2 linked regions of the Homo sapiens genome follow. The protein of the gene in region 2 interacts with the protein of the main gene of each other region in a biochemical or structural test. Each region holds a gene or a part of one and is shown on either strand. Other genes may lie near its edges.

What was found.
Region 1: the proteins of CDK13 (region 2) and CCNK are reported together in a solved structure, tested with the Homo sapiens proteins (one study listed by IntAct).

Annotation. Positions count from the first base shown.
Region 1 is NC_000014.9:99,489,042-99,500,199, reverse strand, and holds part of CCNK (cyclin-K), read right to left. Parts: intron 8,255-11,158; exon of another isoform or gene 7,880-8,254; intron 7,575-7,879; 5' UTR 7,523-7,574; coding exon 7,326-7,522; intron 6,687-7,325; coding exon 6,605-6,686; intron 4,703-6,604; coding exon 4,571-4,702; intron 11-4,570; exon of another isoform or gene 1-10. UniProt on the Homo sapiens protein: Regulatory subunit of cyclin-dependent kinases that mediates activation of target kinases.
Region 2 is NC_000007.14:40,093,256-40,104,238, reverse strand, and holds the end of CDK13 (cyclin-dependent kinase 13), read right to left. Parts: intron 10,110-10,983; coding exon 9,259-10,109; 3' UTR 4,659-9,258; downstream 1-4,658. UniProt on the Homo sapiens protein: Cyclin-dependent kinase which displays CTD kinase activity and is required for RNA splicing.

The sequences.
Region 1 (11,158 bases), on a different chromosome or scaffold from region 2:
CCCAACAACACTTACTGAATAAATGATCATTTCCAATTTTATTTAAAATGCTACCTAAATCACCTCCTAAACTACGTGTGTATGTCTGCCTACACACACACTATCTTTTCTGTTCACTGATCTGCCTGTCTACTCCTGGACCAGGATCAAAGGGATTTGGGTGGGATACAATAGCTCCAGTATTACTTCTCTTTTTCAAACAGTTTCTGGGTTCTGCATGTCCCCCTCACTCAAATTTTAGTAACCATTTTACTTAGTATCATTACAGAAAACATACATGCTATTAATATTCTCATTGGAAACTCAGAGGATTTATAGAATAATTAGGGAGAATGGAGATTTTTAACCATATTGAAGTTTCCTTCCAAAAATTTATTAATATCTTTTCAGTCCTTTAGTTGTTTTAAAGTCCTTTCCACCCCACTAACGAGGTTTCCACAAGGTTTAACCTTGGATATTTTACTGTTGCTATCGTTAATGGAATGTCCTCTTTGATGATACTCTCTAACTAATGTCTTGAACTCAGCCCCTGTACAGCCGACTGTACCTACTGCTTAAAGACAACATAAACCACAACCAAGACACTGTGTGCGGGGAGGACAATTTGAGAGAATTCCTTGTTTGGCATCAAAGACAGGGCGTTGTAGAGGACTGTAAATCTCATCAACAGGTGCAGAGACCCACAGGTCACTGGCTTTCATTTAGAAGCATGGTATTATTTTATAGGATACAGAGATGATTCTATAATTATTATTCCAAATTACATGGCAAGACTAAGGTTTTTCAATCTTAGTTTCCCAAGCATTTTCTCATGAAAGTTTTTTAAAATCTTAGAAACTTTCACACAGTGTAAAAAAAACTGGGCTGGACATGGTGGCTCATGCCTGTAATCCCAGCACTTTGGGAGGCCGAGGCGGGCAGATCACTTGAGGTCAGGAGTTCAAGACCAGCCTGGCCAACATGCTGAAACCCCACCTCTACCAAAAATATAAAAATTAGCCAATCATGGTGGCAGGCGCCTGTAGTCCCCTACTTGGGAAGCTGAGGCAGGAGAATCGCTCGAGCCTGGGCGGCAGAGGCTGCAGTGAGCTGAGACTGTGCCACTGCACTCCAGCCTGAGTAACAAGAGTGAGACTCCATCTCAAAAAACAAAACAAAACAATTTTTTTCTTTGAATGTCATTGTCACCACCTGCTTCCCAGAAGCTTCAACACTTCCTCTAAATTTAGAAACAATTCTTTTTACCAAGTGTACCAATTGGCTTGCAGGCTGTAGCCCACATACTGTTACAGGATAGCCCAGGGCCTGCCCTCCCTCTGTCTTCCAAATATTCAATTAATGGGGTCATTATAGGTCTTTGAGCAAACATCATTCCTCAGGAACGCCTTCCCTCAGCCCCTATTTATCCGGGGGACTTGCCTGGGTCCCTGGGTGGAATGCTATCACAGCACCTTAAATGACCTTTTACAGCGTACACCACAACTCATCATCAAATAGTTATATACTCATTTGATTAAAATTTATCCTGCCACTCAACTGCAGAGTCCATGAGAGCAGAGACCATGTCTGTTCTGCCTCGTGCCTCATGTCTAGTGCCCAACACAAAGGCTGAAACGAATATTACAGAGAAAAGCCACACAATTAAAATAAAGCTAATTAAGGCAAAAAATGTTCCATGGGACTCATGATCTTATTTTTCCTAAATACTTATACTGCCTCCACTAAAGAATTGCCCTCCTGTCTGCAGAGGAAAACATCTTCCCCAATGTCTTCACTGCTCCCAGCTCCAGGTGTTTTCCTTTGGCCCCGACTCCGACCAGGGAAGACTGCGCGAGATAGAGAGGCAGGGGGCAGGTTGCAAAGCCCCCTCCCCCATTCAGACCTAATTGGTATGGTGACCCCTCTTTTCCCATTTTCTGGGGCACAGGAGCTTCAGAACTTCTACTTTCACTGTTCCTGGACTGGGGCTTGGTTTCCTGACTTCATGGTACAGTGGGTAAAGGCTAAAAGTAAAGGGGGCTTCTCCAAGGCACCCTGGGATGGCACAAACCAGCAGCTGCCACGAGTCCATGCCCTGCTGTGGTCCCAGATCTGTGTGATGCCTTATCCTTAAGCACAGCTTGCCAGCCACAAGGTTCACCTGCCCCTGTGACGGGGGTGTGACTGAACCACAGCATGTTCCTACAATCAGACTTATCACGTTAGGACACAGGGCCCCACTACTCAGTAAAAATCAAATACCCATGCACATTGAAAACATTATCTGATGGTGAAATTATTTCTATAAAACTGCATTTTTGGTTATAGTTAATATGAGTTCCTAATAGGTTCAAATGTTTATAAACAGATTAATGGATTTATAATTAAGTTCAAAAGAGTTACCCACATTGGCAATACTTAGAAAATACTAGTGTTAATCACAACCACAATATGTATAAAAGTGTTCTGGGCCCTTGTTAACTCCTCAAAGCAATGAGGAGAATGACTATACATTTTGTATATACATACATAATGCTTGGCAGAGAAAAAGATAACTATTGTGAGACAATACAAGCTAGTTAGGAAAAACAACACCATGAATGGGGCTGAACTTCATCGCTTTAGCTTTAACTGTGATTTAGAAATTTCCTCAGACCATTAGTTTGACATTTATTCCACGAGTACTTGCTGAATGCCTACTCTGTCCTGCCACTGAATGAGGCATTAGACAAAACAGATAGTCTTTGCTTTCATGCATCTTACAGCTGAGAAGGGGAGGGAGTTATGTGTGTGATAATTTGATAAAAATCATCTAATGGATACTACTATCTAAATGCACACCACTAAGTGAAAGAGACCAATCTGAAAAAGCTACATCCTATATGATTCCAATTCGATGACATTCTGGAAATGGTGAAACTATAGAGACAGTAAAAATATCAGTGGTTGCCAGAGGTTAGCGGGGAGAAGGAGACAAACAGGTGGAGCACAGAGAATTTTTAAGGCTATGAAAATAGACTACATGATACTATAATGGTGGCTACATGTTACTATACGTATGTCCAAACCCACAGAATGTACAACACTGAGAATGAACCCTAATGTAAAGTTTGGACTCTGGGTGATGTGTCAATGCAGGCTCATCAGTCATAGCAAATGTACCACTTTGGTCGGGGGGATGCTGAAAATGGGGGAAGCTGTGCATGTGTTGGGTGGGGGGTATATGGGAAATCTCTGTACTTTCCACTCATTTTTGCTGTGAACATAAAACTGCTCTAAAAAAAAAAAAAGCATTTTTTTTTTTTCTTGAGGTGGAGTCTTGCTTTCTCGTCCTGGCTGGAGTGCAGTAGCGCAATCTTGGCTCACTGCAACCTCTGCCTCCCAGGCTTAAGCAATTCTCCTGCCTCAGCCTCCCAAGTAGATGGGACTACAGGTGCGTGCCACCATGCCCAGCAAAAAATAATAAAGGTTTTTTTTTTTTAAAGTAATATTAGTTTATTTATTTTTTTTTGAGATGGAGTTTTGCTCCGTCGCCCAGGCTGGAGGGTAGTGGTGCCATCTCGGCTCACTGCAAGCTCCGCCTCCCGGGTTCATGCCATTCTCCTGCCTCAACCTCCCGAGTAGCTGGGACTACAGGCACCCACCACCACGCCCGGTTAATTTTTTGTATTTTTAGTAGAGACGGGGTTTCACCATGTTAGCCAGGATGGTCTCGATCTCCTGACCTCGTGATCCGCCCGCCTCAGCCTCCCAAAGTGCTGGGATTACAGGCGTGAGCCACCACGCCTGGCCAGTTTATTCTTATATAGTAGAGATGGGGTTTCGCTATGTTGGCTAGGCTGGTCTTGAATTCCTGGGCTCAAGCAATCTGCCCGGCTTGGCCTAAAGTATTTTTGAAAATCTATTTAATTGCAAACTGTGATAAATGTTATGAAGGATAATTAACAGGTGTTACTGAGGTTGCAACAAGGGGAACTTGATGCGAATGGGAGTGGAGGAACACTGCCATGGGTCCCTAAAAGTGGTATTTTAAAAACACAACAAAATATGTACAATTATTTGAGCACCACTTGCTGACACTGGCGTGAGCTGTATGGAAAAGATAGGATGGCTGGTGTGACCAGTATCAAGCTCTGGGTGCATAAAAATGCTGCAAATGTTGATACCTTCCAACATTCTTTAGAAGCAAAAGACACATGGCATATGTAGGCATGTGTATGTGTACATACAGCATACATACTTTTGTTTGACCCAGAAGCTAGCTGGAGTTGTAACCCTGCCATCACCACTGCACTTAAGAAGCAGAGTCCTAATGGCAATTAAGAGGATTTTTGCTCATATCCATGAAATGTGCCACTGCCCCAAAGTACTTAGAATACTGCTGGGCACATAAGGAAGCACTGAGTAAGTGTAGGCTACACGATCTTCCCTCCTTTCTTACAAAAGCATCAAGTAACTTCTACAGAAGGCCCTCTTAGGAACTCAAGAGACTGGCAGACACAAGGGCTACAGGCACTGTCAACATGTGGAACTGTACAATACTACCATAAGGAATCAAGACCAGAAGGCAGGAAGTTATTATCATTCTTACCTTTGGGTCATCTCCAAACTGGCCAAATTGTACATCATTTAATAAACTACGAGCTGTTTTGATGATATCTTTACATTTTTTTGGTGTTTCTTCTACTTTCCCAGCCAGAAAGAGGCAACAGGCTCCTGTCACCTAAAAGGGAAACAAAAGTTCTTGATTTTTGTTATCAAAGGTCACACAGAAATAGATACAATAAATTTTGGCCTTCGTAATAAACTGGTCTTCCTCATTCCCCTACCTTTCTTTTTATCATTCACAAATACTCCGATACTCTAGAAGCTTGAAGGAAATTTTATACATATAAATCCCCCAAACTCTAGCTTCATAAATTATTTAAAATTTAACTTTCTTAAAAAAAAAGTCATGTAAACAAAGAAAATGCCAAAAAGGAAAAGAGTCACATAAATAAATTTTCTTCTCATATTCCAATCTGAAATTAACTCCCTAAACAGCAAGCTTTGCCGTGGAAAAAGAAAGAGCACAACTAAACACAGTCCCGCGGAATCCATCTCAGCAGCACTGCCCATGCTTCCTTTTCCTTCTAGCACAGTCCTGTGGAATCCATCTCAGCACTGCCCATGCTTCCTTTTCTTTCTGCTATGGTCTGAATGTTTATGTCCTAATTCATAGCTTGAGACCTAATTCCCAAGGTGGCGGTATGAAGAAGTGAGGCCTTTGGGAAATGATTCTGAATGGGATTACTGCCCTTATAAAAGAGGCCCAAGGGGCTTGTTCCTCCCTTCCACCATTTGAGGATGCGGCAAGGAGCCCTTTTATGAGGAACAAACCCTTACCAGACACAGAATCTGCCAGCACCTTGATCTTACACCTCCCAGTCTCTACAACTGTGAAGAGTTAAGTTTCTGTTGTGTGTAAATTATTGGGTCTAAGGCATATTGTTATAGCAGCCTGAATGGATGAAGAAACTGTCCCTCCAGTTGCCTCAACCTTAGCTCAGTCCCTATATCACTGGGGTCTGAACTGCTCTGTCTTCAGCTTCTCTTTGCCCACTCCAATCCTTCCTACATGCCACTCTCCTCACATAATCCTGATCACACTAGATGTCAGACACTCTGCCGGGGGTACAAAACTGATTCCAACATGGTCTCCTTCTTCAAGAACTTCACAACCAGTGAGGAAGGCATGTATATAAATCTAACTAAAATCTTAGCTAACAAATCAACACAATGACTTTAATGTTAAGTCTGTCATTTTCACGAAACCTTTTAATTACTGCATTGTTCACCCACTGAAGCCAAATTTCTGAAGTCTGGCATTCGAGGCTTATCGTGGTCTGACCCAGTCTACCTATCCACCCAGGGTCTCATCATTTCCTTCCTGCCAAATCAAGCTCCTGGCTGGGCTGACAATGTGTCACATGGTTCCCCCTGCCTCTGCTTATGCTAGCTTCTGTTGGACCACTGACCTAGCCCATCACGGCATGGCTATGCCCTATGTACGTTTAAGGCTTACCTTAATGCTGGCACCTTCTTCCTAGCACTTTCCCTGCTCTCTCCAAGATGTAAGTTGTCTCCTCCTTGAATGCCACAACTCTTTTATCAGTATCTTCTGATGGCCTCACTTTCCATCACGTGTTCTGTGCATGTCATACCACTTATCCTGGACTGAAAGCTACTCTATCTCCCACAGAGAGTAAGACACAATGCACGTCTTGAGGAGTAACCGAAGAATGAGTGATATGGCATAGACAACTTCTGTTCCATTTTGCTTTCTTGGTCTTTGTTGAGTCTCAATTATAAGCCCAAATTTATGCTGGGAAAGGTACCACGGGAGTAAACTTTCATACAAAGCGCAATATGACTATGGTCCATATTGGCCTAAGTGAAAAGATTTGAACATGGCTAATTGGAATAAAAAAAGTTCAAACTTGATTTTGTTTATATGCAGTATATACCATATAAAAATAAATACTTTCTGGAAAATATGAGAAAAATAGAGCTTATAATTAGTCCACCAAACTGTGTGGAAATAATAACATATGACAGAGAATTACAATAAAATTCAAACACTTACATATCTTGGGAATTGCTTGAAGGAATGAAACATATAGAAGCGATGAAAATAAATTATTCCAGTTGCCAGGGTATCATAGTGTCTGTTGTTCTGGTTAAGGACTCTAACCAATAACTTTTACAGGTTATACTCTTAGTTAAATGTAGAAAAACAAAAAGACAAACAACAACAACAAAATCAATGGTAAAGTAAACAATATTAGTGGCAAAGTAATGAGATGGGAATCTCAGGGTGTCAGAATTCTGGTACAAGAATTAGCAAGCTGAAGTTTTATACTTTTAACACCCTTTAGAAACACTTCAACTATGATCTTTTTTTTTTTGAGACAGCATCTCTGTCACCCAGGCTAGAGTGCAGTGGTGTGATCTTGGCTCACTGCAGCCCAGGTTGGTCTCGAACTCCAGATTTCAAGGGATGCTCCTGTCTAGGCCTCCCAAAGTGCTGGGATTACAGGCATGAGCCACTGTGCCCAGCCTCAACTGTGATCCTAATGGGTGCCTCATATCCTCCTGGCTGGCCACCTCCTCAGTGGCTAAGTCTACACCTTTAAAATGACAAATCAGAAAGAGAAAAACCCCCACCAGAAACAACATTCAAACAGATATTTAAGAACTGCTCTGGTACAGAGAAATTACTATATATTTTGTCTACAGAATCTAATTATTTCTTGGTGGTGAGTGGGGAGCCTATCTGTAACAGATTCCAAGGAGAGTCAGGATACAGCCCCAAACGTGTGCCCACATCAAAGATGAACCGAGCGCCCTCTCGGCGGTACCGGGCCTCGGTGGCTGGATCAAGTCCTTCAAGTTGTGAGGGTGTATGAGCCAAGTCTTTCTTATCCCAGTACCAACATGGCTTTGTGTGGTCCAGGTTTGCTGAAGTTACTGAAGGGCTTGAATTTTCTTTATTCTCCTTCATTTATTGAAGTAGGCTTGTTCTTTCCAAAAGGTTCTCTGAAAATGTTAGAATCCTATGAGAAAGAGAAAAACAAAGTTGGAAAGGAATACTCCATACTATAAGCAATCTAGAATCATAGATTGTACCTGGTTTGGGATCACTATTTCCTATAGAAACCACACTGTCAATTGCCAGTTACAAGCCCGGGCTAACTCCAGAGCCAATTTAACACAATACTGTAAGATGACCCCAGTACTAATATTAATAAATCTCAAATTTCATGGTAGTTTAAAAATAAGACTATTTCCTCCCTCTCTCTTGAGATTAAAGGGTTAACCTTATTTGACAAAGTTTTGGAAGAAACGAAGTATATCTCACTTTCTTCTGGTTTTTCTTCACTAGACATACAGGTCCTCTAACGCTGGTCCAGATTCCATTCTTCAGCAAAACCTGGGCCTGTCTTAATCTTGACAAAGATTTATGTTCTAAAACTAACCATCTCTTCCATCCAGCACCCCTTTTCAGTTTATTCCATGTAGGCACTTTCACTTAGACAAGTCATGGGATTGGGTTAATTCACATCTGCACAAATCACTGAATTCACTGATGTAAACCAAATGTGCATCTTGTGATTTGGGGAGTGGGTGGATGGAAGTGGTCCATGAGAGAAGGAGCTCCTTTAAACTGTTCTTGCTTTTTCATCCTCTTCCTTTTCTTTCACTCAGAATAAAGACACTCTCCAAAAGCTCCATGCTGAGAGAAAGAAAGAAAGAAAAAAACAACAACAACGAAGGATCTCATCTAGAGACCACTGTTAGAAATAAGTCATTTGTAACCTGGATCAGAGACAGCAGATACTTTCAAATAAGGTATCAAAAGGGTTCTGAAAGAGCTGGCTGGAGCCAGGTTAGTCTGGTTAGCAAGAAAACAGCAGCTCTGTGGCCAGGTTCTGGGCCAGGGCTCCCACCAGTTCATCTGGAAACCTAACCTTTTCTGTGTATCTGCCTCATTTCTGGTGGGGAAGGTGACATGGTGGGGCTGAATATTCTCCTCCTTGCACCTGGTAGCTCTGAAGGAAATCTGATCTTCCCTCCAAGAGGAAGAATTAAGTACCTGGAGAAAAGCTTGAACTAATAATTTACATTTTTGTGTGTGACTGATTAAATTGGGCACTGTTCAAAGGGCGGGGGAGACCAGTTAATTAAAACCTCAGAAAATATGACCTGTTCATAATCAGACATCACACTGAGATACAATTCTCACCTACTGGATTGGCAAAAATCCCAAAGTTTGACAATTTGCTCTGTTGGCAAAGCTATAGAGAAGCAGGTGATCTTATAAGCTTCTGGTGGGAGTACAAAATGGTCCAACTGTCACAGAGAAGTTGACGATATCCAACAAAATTACACATGCATTTGCTCTTTGACCCAGGATTCCCACTGCTGGGAATCGACTCTGAAAATATTGTCCTAACTATGAAATGTCACAACTATGAAACAACATGTGCACAAGATTATTCACTGTAGTGTTATTTATAATGGCAAAACTATGAACAACCCAAACGCCCATCATCAGGGGACTGGCTGAGTAAAATATGACACATGCACACAATAGCATACCCCACAGCTATTAAAAAGAATGAGAAACATCGTTAAGTACTGGATGGAGAAATTTCCAGATCAGCAAGGTATAGGATAGTGTACACAGTATGTTAGCATCTATGTAAGAAAGGAGGGGAAAAAACAGACATCTCTTTTTTTTTTTTTTTTTGAGACGGAGTCTTGCTCTGTTGCCCAGGCTGGAGTGCCAGTGGCATGATCTCGGCTCACTGCAAGCTCCACCTCCTGGGTTTACGCCATTCTCCTGCCTCAGCCTCCCGAGTAGCTGGGACTACAGGCGCCCGCCACCACGCCTGGCTAATTTTTTTGTATTTTTAGTAGAGATGGGGTTTCGCCGTGTTAGCCGGGATGGTCTGGAGCTCCTGACCTCGTGATCCGCCTGCCTCGGCCTCCCAAAGTGCTGGAATTACAGGTGTGAGCCACCGCGCCCAGCCAGACATCTCTATTTTTTTAAAGTAATTCAAAAAATATTTACCAATAAGGAATGGGGAAAAACAGGATGGAAAAGACAGGAATGGAAACAAGACTTCTCTATGTATATATCTTTTTATACAGCTTTGCCTTTTTATGAAAGCTTTTATTTTAAACTAATTGTACGTTTACAGAAGAGCTGTAAAGATAGATGAGTTTTGTCTATACCCTTCACTTAGCTTCCCCAATGTAAACATCTTCCATAACCATGGTTCATTTATCCAAAAAAAGAAATTAACTTTGGTATAACCACTATTAACTACACATCATATTTGGGTGCAGGTGATATCAGAACAACTTACTGCTGTTAACCATGAGCTCTTGGTTAAGATGGAGTCTACCAGGTTTCTCACTGTAAATTATTATTTTTCCCTTCCTATCTTCTATTCCTTAGATGCAAGTCACGAGGTCCAGCCCACACTCAAGGGTAAAGGAATTAAGCTCTACTTTCTGGAGGCAGAGATATCAAAGAAATTGTGGACATATGTTAAAACCACCCACTAGTAAGTAAATATTTTGGGGGAAATATTTTACAATGCAAAATACTATACAAATGTCTATTTCTCCTTCAAGTTTCATCTACTAATTTTAGCATTCACCTGAGACGATTACAACTGTGGTGTTCTAATGGTGACTTTCTATTTCCTTCACTGCTTCAACATTTATTATTTGGAATCATTTTGTTAATATTTGTTTCTTCTCTCCCATTTGTTTATTTACTTTAGTACAGACATGAGTATTTTATTCTTTGGGTTATAATCCAATACTATCATTATTTATTTTGTTGCTCAAATTATTCCAATGTGGCCATTAGGTGCTCTTTCAGCTTGACTCCCTGCAGAGTACTTTTATAACTTTGATGTTTGAATCATGTAAATATTTAACATACTCATACACTTAACTAAAAATAAAAAAGCAAATCCTAAAACTCAAACCAAATGGGCAACAAAATCACACAGAAACTTACTTCCAAGTAATTTCTGATATTGTTACATGCTTAGTGAGATATATTCTAAGGACAAAAATAACTGAAAAGAATTATTTATTTGTTTATTTATTTACTTACTTACTTATTTTAGAGTCAGAGTCTTGTTCTGTCACCCAGGCTATAAGTGCAGTGGCATGATCCTAGTTCACTGCAGCATCGAACTCCTGGCCTCAAGCGATCCTCCCGCCTAGCCTCCCAAAGTGCTAGGATTATGGGTATGAGCCACAGTGGCTGGCCCCAACGAAATTTTAAAACTTCATTAGTGTACTGTTAGTAGTGTCATTAATGTTGTAATTTTCAAACACATTTTTTTTTGCATGTTGTGGAATAAAGCAAATATGTAAATGCTAATGTTGTTAGGAACCAAGATTTTCAGTGCAAAGAAAACAAATGCACACATGCAGAAAACCAAATGTTAAGAAACAAATCTGTAATGTTAAACTTTAACTGAAGATATCAAAATAAATCATGGTTAAAAAAAAATATATATATATGTATCCCATTTCTGTCCTTTTCAAGTACCAAGAAGGAATGACACTCCTAATTCTGAAATCTTAACTTTTTCAATACCAATACCCT
Region 2 (10,983 bases):
AGTTCTTCATTAATCTTTTTCTATCAGATATTTAAGGTGGAACTAGACAGAAAGTAGTTTAAAACCGGAAGGAAAGTCTCAAGAGTGAATATTGTTGCTTTGTTGACTGGAACCCATAAATTCCTACTTAAAAATTTATTTTATTACAAATACATTTTTCTTAATCAAGATAAAAAATAAGCATCAAAGCAGCAGCAAAATTCCCCCTTCCCCACTCCCACCCAGTTCTTCTCTCAGTCACAACAGCAAACATTCAGGGAGCCCTGAAGTATGTACAAGGCACTATTCAGTTACTTAATCCTCAACATAAACCTTTAGGTACTGTACCCACTTCATGAACGAAAAAACTGAGAAATAAGGGAGTTTTAATAGCTTGGCTATAGCTATACAGATTAATAAATAGTAAAACCAGGATTTAGTCTTGGCTCACAAGTCTCTTTTTAAAACAATCTGCTCTATTATAACCCACAATCAGTTTCAGTTTTCAAATACTCTATGCACTATATAGAAATACTTATTTAATACAATGGAGTCATTCTATACTTTTATCCATATTATTTAACTGTTCTCCTACAAATGAATATTTAAGATATTTACCTTTTTTCACTTTATAATTATATATAAAATTATACAGACAGAAATAAGCTAAATATATATATGTCCAGAAGTGGAGTTGCTAGTCAAAGTGTATTTGTTCTTTCTCAGTATTTTAAAGTTTTCCCATTCAGATCTATGAAAATGTGTTATTTTTTTTTCAAAATTTGCCTCTTCCTATTTCTTCTTGTAGATAATCATTTGTCCCAGGAATCTTTATATCTGGTAGAACAAATCCAAAATCTTGTTCTTTGAAATTACCTTAGCTATTCATGGCCTCTTCTTCTACACACAGTAGTTCCACTTTATCCATAGTTTTGCTTACCCCAGTTATCAGAGGTCAACTGCAGTCTGAAAATATTAAATGGAAAATTCCAGAAACAATTAATGAGTTTTAATTTGTGAGCAGTTCTGAGTAGCATAATAAAATCTCACACCATCCTGGCTCTACCTGCTGTAGATGCTACCTGCCCATTAGTCACTTGTAGCTGCCTCGGTTATCAGATTGTAAAAACAGTATTATGCAGGGTTCGGTACTATCTGCAGTTTCAGGCACTAAGTGGTGAGTCTTGGATCACATACCCACAGATAAGGGGAGACTACTGTAAAAGTTACTAGCAATTCACACAAATCTATCAATGCTAATAATAGTTTATCTTGTGTGCTTTACATAGACAATCACTTAAGTCTGCCATTAATAATTTTTTCTGTTTGGGTACAGTTGCTCACACCTGTAATCTTCCCACTGTGGCCTCCCACTTTGGGAGGATCGCTTGAAGCCAGGAGTTTGAGACCAGCCTGGGCAATATAGCAAGACTCTGTCTCTAAGAATAAAATTAAAAATTAGCCGGGCATAGTGACATGTGCCTGTAAGTCCCGGCTGTTTGGGAGGCTGAGGCGGTAGAATGACTTGAGCCCAAGATTTCAAGGCTGCAGTGAGCTATGATCACACCACTGCACTCCAGCCTGGGTGACAGAGCAAAACCCTGTCTCAAACAAACAAACAAACAAACAAATAAATAAATAAATAAATAAATAAATAAATAAATAAAATTATGCCTTTTCAAACCCTTCTCTACCTTCCTCCATCCCTCAAAAATGCTGACAACCTGAACAGTAACTAATAATGGACATCCTTGTCTATTCCTCATCTTAAAATAAATGTCTAACATTCTACCCCAAGTATGTTTGCTGGATAACATTTTAGAAATAATTACAATAGTTAAGATAACTAAAACATCGCTTTTTTTACTATTATTATTTTTGAGACAGTCTTGCTCTGTCACCCAGGCTGGAGTGCAGTGGCATGATCTCAGCTCACTGCAACCTCTGCCTCCCAGGTTCAAGTAATTCTCTTGCTTGAGTCTCCCGAGTAGCTGGGATTATAGGCATGCGCCACCATGCCCAGCTAAGTTTTTTGTATTTTTGGTGGTAACGAGGTTTCACTATGTTGCCCAGGCTGGTCTTGAACTCCTGAGCTCAAACGATCCACCCGCCTCAGTCTCCCAAGTGTTGGGTTTAGAGACGTGAGCCACGGCACCCAGCAGGATCTATATTCTAAATAAAACATTAGTTTTCCAGCTTATTCTGCCAATCTGTCATAACCTGTTAATCAAAATTAACACAGATACAAAACATAGATACAAAGTCCTAAATACATGGCTAGGAATTAGAATATAACAGCATTTTAAATTAATGGTTATTACATTCTATTCTGTCATCAAAAGGTCAAAAGAGCAATTGCATATAATGTCATTTGAAAAAAACCTTTAACAGCTGATCCTAATAAGCAGGCTTCATGAAAAAAGATTCTTCTTAAACATAATATTCTATTTTTAACCTATAAATTACACGACTGAAACACTAAAAATCAGACATCAGTAAAATCAGAAACAAGAATGCCATTATACTTATTCACTGAAAACTATTAAAAATGATAATAAAAGTTATGTGGCCAGTTTAACAACAACAATTAAGAATCAGCTTTACAATATAAGTGGTGACTAGTTAAAAATATTATAATACGAGGAGTCCATATCTAAAAGCAACAAAAATATTTTTGGAAACTTAAAAAAAGAACATGAAGAAAATTTTGGAACCCTTACCAGCCTGGCCAACATGATAAAGCCCCGTCTCTACTAAAAATACAAAAATTAGTCATGTGTGGTGGCAGGGGCCTGTATCCCAGCCACTTGGGAGGCTGAGAAAGGAGAATCTTGAACCTGGGAGGCAGAGGCTGCAATGAGCTGAGATTACACCACCACATTCCAGCCTGGGCGGCAGAGTAAAACTCTTGTCTCAAAAAAAAAAAAAAAACAGTTCGAACTCTTAATGGAGAACATGTAAAAAAACAATTCTACTAAGCTCTCAATGGAAAGATCCCCTAAGTAAAAAACATTTAATATGTTTCCAACCAAAATCCTAACAGAATACTTGAGAAAATAATCTAAATGATTCTGAAAGTCACATGGAAAAATAAACAGGAATAGAAAACTCTGAAAAGGGGACAATTAAATTAAAGTTCTGCCTGACAAATTTTATGTGGTACACATTTTCTAGGAATTGAAAATAAAATTATTTTTAAAACACACACACATAATGTCAGATGCCTAGTTTATAATGATACAAGTGTAGGACTTGTAAACAGAAGATAAAGATTAAAAAAAAAGTGTAAAGTTGGATCCATATCTCAAAACAAACATCTATAAAATATAGAATGGTTTAGAATTAAATGTATACTAAAATATGTGTAAATGTTTAAATAACTTTGGAGTAGGAAAGCTTTTCTAAATGCTTTTCTAAAGAGAAACAAGGAAAAGATTAACAGACTTAACTACATATTAAAATTTTCCCATAACAAATATATATAACAAATATATACAATATACATACATAATATACATATTTACAATATATACATACATATATACAATATAGATATGTACATATACATACTATATATGTATACATGTATGCATTATACTATATATATACATAATATTAGGATCAGCTGTTAAAGTTTTCAAACATCTGAATAGTTAATAAAAGACCTGGCTAACATATGAAGTGTTGGACTTCACTAGTAATCCAAGAAACATGAATTAAAACAAGATGATTTATCACCTGTCTAACTAACAAAGATCTCTAACTTTTAAGTACCCAACATGGCTAAATGAAAAGGTTAAGGAACAGGAATGGGAAACTGGTAAACTTTTCCCTAGAGCGATTTGGATCTAGCAAACATTTTAAAAGTGCATTCTTTATACCAGCAACTCCAAGGAAATTGATTTATGTTTGTGTGTATGTATGTATTTTTGTGGATTTTCATCACATTATTTGTAACAGAAAAGTCCAAAATATTGTGTCCAGCAATGAGAAATTGTGAAAGTATGGTTCCTCTATAAAGCAATAATTTACAACCATTAAAAAGAGGGTGGGCTGGGCGCAGTGGCTCATGTCTTTAATCCCAGCATTTTGGGAAGCCAAGGTAGGAGGATTGCTTGAGGTCAGGAGTTCAAGACCAGCCCGGACAACACAGGGAGACTCCATCTCTACAAAAAATTTAAAAAATTAGCCAGGCATGGTGGTGCATACTTGTAGTCCCAGCTACTTGGAAGGCTGAGGCAGGAGGATCACTCGAGCCTAGGAGTTCAAGGCTGCAGTGAGCCATGATGTCGACACTGCATTCCAGACTGGGGGAAAGAGGATAGAATTTAACTGACTGATACCAAGAGATGTTCACAACATATTATTAAATGAAAAAATTCAAATTACAAAGCTATGGGCAGTATGATCCCATTGTTTTAAGAAAAAAAAAAACAAGATATGCATTCAAATACATCCATCAAAGGCAAAATATTATGTGGTTATCTGGGGGTGTTCTTCTCTGTGTTCCTATTTCCAAATATGTACTAATTATAAAAAGAAAAAAAAAGATTCCACATCTTAACCTTTGTCAAAAAAACGGCACAGTGGATTACAAGTGGTCATCTTTATCAGATAAGATTACTTCAAAAAGTCTGTTCTGGATAGAAGCAAAAAGCAAACAAGGCTGAAAAATGGCCTGGGAGTGTTACGGCAATTTATTTACAGACTATTGAATACGGCCTTAAAAAAATGGTAAAAAACAAATGGCTTATATTAATACATTAGATGTTAACAGTTACAAGACTTAACTTTTAAACGTTCTTGCAAGAGAGTACAACACTTTTAAACAAATTAACTGGGAAAAAACTTAGAAGAGTGATTCTGTATTCACTATAGAGCCTCATTTGAATACAATTAGAAAATTCATTTTTAATTGCACATTTGACAGGCTGAAATGAGTTAAGACCTGCAGACTCTGTTAGTCCATAAAATTAAAAGGATAAGTTCTTCCCTTTACAATAAAAATTTTCTATTTTCCCTGTCTTCAAATGGATCCCATGACAGCTTATTATTAATAGCTTTTATTTTTAAGTAGAAACATTTAAGAAATTATCTGGAGAAGCCTTTGGTAAATGGCAAACTATTGCTCCCCTTAAAAAACCACTTGAAATTACAAAACCCTGAAAGTATTTTTTTGTTGTTTTTTTTTTTAAAGTTCCAAATCAATAGGTTTTATTGCATAAAACCTTGAAAGAACTTAAAAGCAAATTATGTTTGCAAGCCTACTGATAACCAATCTTCTTTCAACAAATGAAAAATACATACAGGACTTGCCTTTTCAAAGATTATCCATATATGAAACAAACAGCCCCTTCAGGCTCCTAAATTTTGAAGATGTTTTTATTTTTCTATTTTTTCTAAATAAAAATTGTTTTTTAAGCAGACTTTTTAAAGCCACTTGTGTTAAACCATTAGTCCAATAGTCTAATTATTTTACCGTATCACTGGTCAAGTTATCTTGAAGCAATTTCCCTATTAAAAAGTTAAGTATTTACTGCAGAATTTAGGTATGGCTTAGAGGAACAAGCACAGGCAATCCAGCTGCCAAAGTTTCTGGCAATCCCTCTTTCTAAGCCTTATTTTTCTTAGTTGTAAAGTAAGAAGACCGACTGGATAATTTTAGGTTACTGGGACATCTCGTTCAGACTTTTAAAACATCAAAAGGCAGACTGGGCCAAAAAAAAAAAAAAAATTGAAAGGATATTATATCCCAGGGAATTAGCTATCTATATTCAAAACATATATTTCAGCTTTGTTTTTTTTACCTATGTCCTACAAGAAGGATTCACCTTTTTGGAAAAGAAAGCAAGTCCCCTTCCCCTAAAAAAAGAAAAAATAAAAATAAAAAAGGAAAACAAAAAGCCCTAGGATGAAAAATCATCCCAAATTGGATTAAGCTCAAAGAGCAAAACCTTAACTCAGAAGTACCAGATTTTAAGCATTTATGTATTCACTTTTCATTTTTCTCAAGAAGTCTTGATATTTCTTACAAATAGGCCATTGCAAACTGACCAGATTCAACTTAAAATTTTATCACTTTTAAGTGATATCAAACAGCTATTCCAGTTGTTTGATTTCTCTCCATAACCATCTCTATCCAAATTTCAATTTAAAATTTCAAAAAGATACTCAAATTTTCATGCCCTACATTCACTTAAGTGCAATTTAGATACAGCTGAGGGTAGCAAATACCACTAACTTCTCCAGACATTTAAAAAAATCTTGCTCACTGTCAGCACACTGAAAGTATGATTTAACACTGTTGACGGTTATTGATGTACCCCAAGGACTAGATTACTACCTGGCATGTTGTAGGCACTGACTATGTATTTGCTGACAGAATAAAGCTCTGAATCACAGCTAGAATTATTACCTTATTTCACATTCCACAAATGACAACTCCTTAAAATTGGCATTTTAAGGTTTCACAAATGACTTGCAACTCTCCAACAAATAATGAAGACGTAGGAAACATACTGAGTTGCATGCAGAAAAACCTGCTGTGTCAGTAAATACAAAAGGGAATTTCACGTGGGAGAAGATAAATACTTTCTTCTTTTGGCAGGTCAAATCTTTTATATTTTTGTCTTCTTAACTTGCAGTCTGACTTACCTGCTTTTTTCCAAAAAATTTAAGCAATATTTTGTGTTCTTTAGATTTCACTCAAATTTTCAGCGATGACTGCTGTTATAACCTACAGAACTAGTGATTTCCCAACTTTGTTCTATTAATCCAAATTCACTGAATTAAAATATTAAATGCTATGAAGGGAAGCATTAAAATTTTTTACTATCATATTTCATCAATTATAAGACATATTTTCATATAATATGTCTGAATCTGGGATGCAGCTTACAATTGATGACGTCTTAGCATTGTATTGTGGCTTAATTGGCAACATTTTTTCTTCTAAGTGACATATAAAAGACTAGTATGTCTCACAGTAGTGCTGTGTAAGGATAATATTAGAAGTTCTAGTTCAAATTTTCAATGTCAAAGCAACAATTTCCCTGTCCTCCCAGCCACTCTCCCAACATAAATATATAACTGAAATGTTTGATTAGAAAAACTATCCAAACACAGTTCAATTTTATATAAAATATTTAATTTTTAAAACACAGGCTATTCATGTCACATAAATATCTTCAACTGTAGGTTAGCTGCTTATGGTCAGCAGAATTATCAAGTGTGACTATTAAGAATAACTTAGATACTGTCACTTATAGGAAAGTCTAAAGCTCTAAGACTCACCATATTAAAATTTCAGATACTTGAATACTGTTGCTATTTTGCTAATTTCAAAATATTTCTTCATTTCCTGCAATGTAGTTTATAAGTTGTTAGTAATCAATATTCAAATAAAAGCAACATATTTTTTTCTTCCATTCATTTCTTTCTCCCAACAAAAAGAGTCCATCAAAAAATAAAATGGTCAACTGATATCAACTTATTTTATAGTAGTAAAATGGTAAATTATCCTCTTTAAAATAATTTTACTCTTATCAAACTACAGGACTTCCCACATACTGTTTTGAAATGAAGGTTCATAAGTTAGAGGGCACAGGGTTAACTGGCTTTAGAACTGGAGCAATATACATTCTGTAACAGTTGTTCCAATTTAAGATTCCAATAAAAAAAAATAAGTTACCAGAACAGTTGATGAACAAAATGATTAATTGGCACAACTCTAACTTCCAGTCAATTTTTCCATTTAGTGATAATGGAAACACTGGTTATTTACCTTTGGTTCCTTTCTAGAATTAGTATAATTGTGTGTGTATGTGTGAGAGTGTGCACACAGTGAGACTTGACACCATTACAGTTTAAATAAGGACTACTCCATTCTTTGATGCTCTTCATTAAAAAAAAATGTTAAAATGAACTAAAGTTGTTGCTCTAAGTCTGGCAGAAGTCATAATCAACTTTACAGAATGTGACAGGAAGGAAGATAAAAGTTCTCTCTCATTGCCTTTTCTTTTTGCTTCAATAAATTCAATCTAAGCAATGTTTCTAGTTAACAAGTGAATAGAATTGACTTTCTTAAAAGGGCAATTGCATAACTTAAAATACGGTATTTGCCACCCCTCCCCCATGAACTTTAACACATTTAGGCAAGTTCTGTTATTAACTCTTGCTTCTATACCATGACCCTCCAATTATCCATGGCAAATGGAAACAGGGATAATATGGCAGCCTGAAAGAAAATGGTACTCTAAAATTCTCCTGGAGCTATTACTTTCAACCATTTAAATGACAAAACTTTGTAGAACTTCTCAAACAATATGTACTGATTGCAGTTCTACTCCCTTTCTTTGCTCTCACTCCCCTATCAAGAGAAGGTGGTAGTGAAAGGCAACACAGCCCAAAGACAGGCAGAAAAGGAGAAAGTGTGACAAGCAGAGGGAATGGACCTAACAGGAACTGAACAGGCAGCCCCTGAAACTTCAGAGTTTCTTGCCTTTTTAATGCATTGATTCCCTTTAAAAGACAAATGGGGGTAAAAGTTAACTATTTTTTTCAGACCTTAAGCTTACCTGTTAAGGCACTTACTTTCCCTCCCCACCCCACCCATAGTTTTCATATAAAACCCACTATTTCATTTAAATGCATTTTGCTAGGCTTTGATAATCTGCAAAACAAAACAAAAATAACGTTGACCATTTTTTTTTTTATAAAACTGTTGCATCAAGAGAAAGGTTGTGTTTTATTTTCTGAAATGAGCACAAAGTACACCTTTCACAATAACACTGAAAGCAGGTGCAAAGACTGACAGTGACCTTTGACTAAAGGTAGCTTTGTAAAAAGAAAAATACCAAATAAATCAGTGCCCTTTCTGATTGTTGTAAAACTGGAGGTGGGGAGGGGCTGTTTGTTACATAAAAGTTGGTCCAAACTTACAAAAAAAGCACAAATGTGCATAGTTCAGAAGATCTGCAAGAGGGCCATAAAAGGCTTATGCCCCTAAAATTAGCATCCACTTAAAACTGCAAGAATACAAAATAAAATTGTTAACTAGAATTTGTGAAGATGTACAATCGATCTAGTTTTTAGAACAGCATGAATTTAAGCAAAGGTTTTTTTTGTCTTTTTTAAACTATTGTATGCAAGACCCTTCTCCACATAAAAATAAAGCTGTTGTTGAATTATTATTATTCAAGTCTCTTGGATTGCTGCCTTAAATTGCAGCTAGAAAAGTCTTTCCAGATAAAAATGATGTGCCTGAGGAAAAACAGATACTCAGTATGGTAACCCTCTGCCTCTGCCTCTGCCAGTTGATGTGCTAATATGTCCCCTGTATCCTTGTGAATATCCAGGTCCTTGGGCAGGAGAAGTCCAGGTCTGTCCATGCATGAGGCTGGGGCCACTCGGATTTTCCTGTAAGTTACCACCATAGTTATAGTTGTGCATCTTTGCTGGCAAAGGATGAGTACTCTCTGGCCCCGTGGAAGGGTCACTGCTGTTTGCCAGGACTGCAATAGGACCATGGCTATATTCAAATCTATGGTCCTTGTCTCCACTAAACAACATGGGACCAGCATTGAGGTAAATGTCTCCATATCCAGCTACTGAACTGGGAAATGACTCAGAAAAGGCAGAAGGCTGAGGTGGACCACCAGAATGAGATGAAGCAGTACTGTAGTTATCCAAAGACTGAATATCTGAATTTCCAATGAAACTACGTCGTTCTAGTGGTGGAGCAGAACTGCTTCCTAGACCATCATTGCTAACATAAGGAGCAGAAGAGAAAGAAGAGGATCCAAAGTTGTCCTTGTAGTCTGAAGTGGACACGTAAGTGTCTCCTGCTTGATAATCAATCCCACCTTCTCTTTTGGGGTCATCCTGGGGCTGATGCTGAGCAAGCAGCTGTAACAGGGCTGCCTTCACTCCGGCATGAGGGTCAGTTAATGAAGAACTGGTGGTGGGTACATGCTGGTTTTCTGTCCGATAATCTAGATCTTCCTCAGTGACTGGTGGTGGTTCAGGAGGCTCGGGAGGTCGTTGGTCAGGAGGCAGAATTCGAGGCCGGTCTGGTTCTGGCGTTAGCTCCAAGATCCTCATATCTTGATGCTGGATGAGGTCATCTTGTCCTAAGTGAAACAGAGCAAAAACAAGGTCAAAAGTTACCATGGAAAACTAAATATTCAAAATACTCAGTGTTTCCTGTAGGTAGTTCTAAAGATGATTAGAAGTTCCATCTCTGGCAAAATGTTAAATGAAAAAAGCAAAAAGTTTACAAGTACTATGGTAACTGGTAAATTTTACTGTATATGGCTTCTCTTTAAAAAAAAAAAAATTTTTTTTTTTTTTTTTGGTGACACGGTCTCACTCTGTCACCCAGACTGGAGTGCAGTGGAGTGATCACAGCTCACTGCAGCCTTGACCTCCTGGGCTCAAGTGATCCACCCACCTCAGCCTTCCAAGTAGCTGGAATCACAGGCATGTGCTACCATGCCCAGTTAATTAAAAAAAATTGTTTTAGAGACAGGGTCTCACTATGTTGCACAGATAGGTACTGAATTCCTGGGTTCAGGCAATCTTCCCACTTCAGCTTCTCAAAGTGCTGGGATTACAGGTGTGAGCCACTGCACCCAGCCGTAATTGGCTTTTTAAAGCTAATTACGGCTAGGTGCAGAATTCACGTATACTTCATTGCTTGAGGAACAAAAGCTACTGTGTACATAAATTATGCCTTAGTCAAGCATCCTTTCGTATTTGGAGTTAAATATTATTTCTTAACCATAGGTTTACCTTAGAAATATCTTTATCATTCACAATGAGTTCTATCTCACATGGATAATTTGTTAAAGAATCCATTCCTGGAAGTAAACAGACTGAAAAACCAACCTATTGCCAGTTACCTGAGATTCTTCAGGACATCTTTTGGCAATGTCACTGAACTATACACATTATATATAGTCAGCAACACTGAGTAGACAATGTAATGCAGCTGTGTTAGTGGTC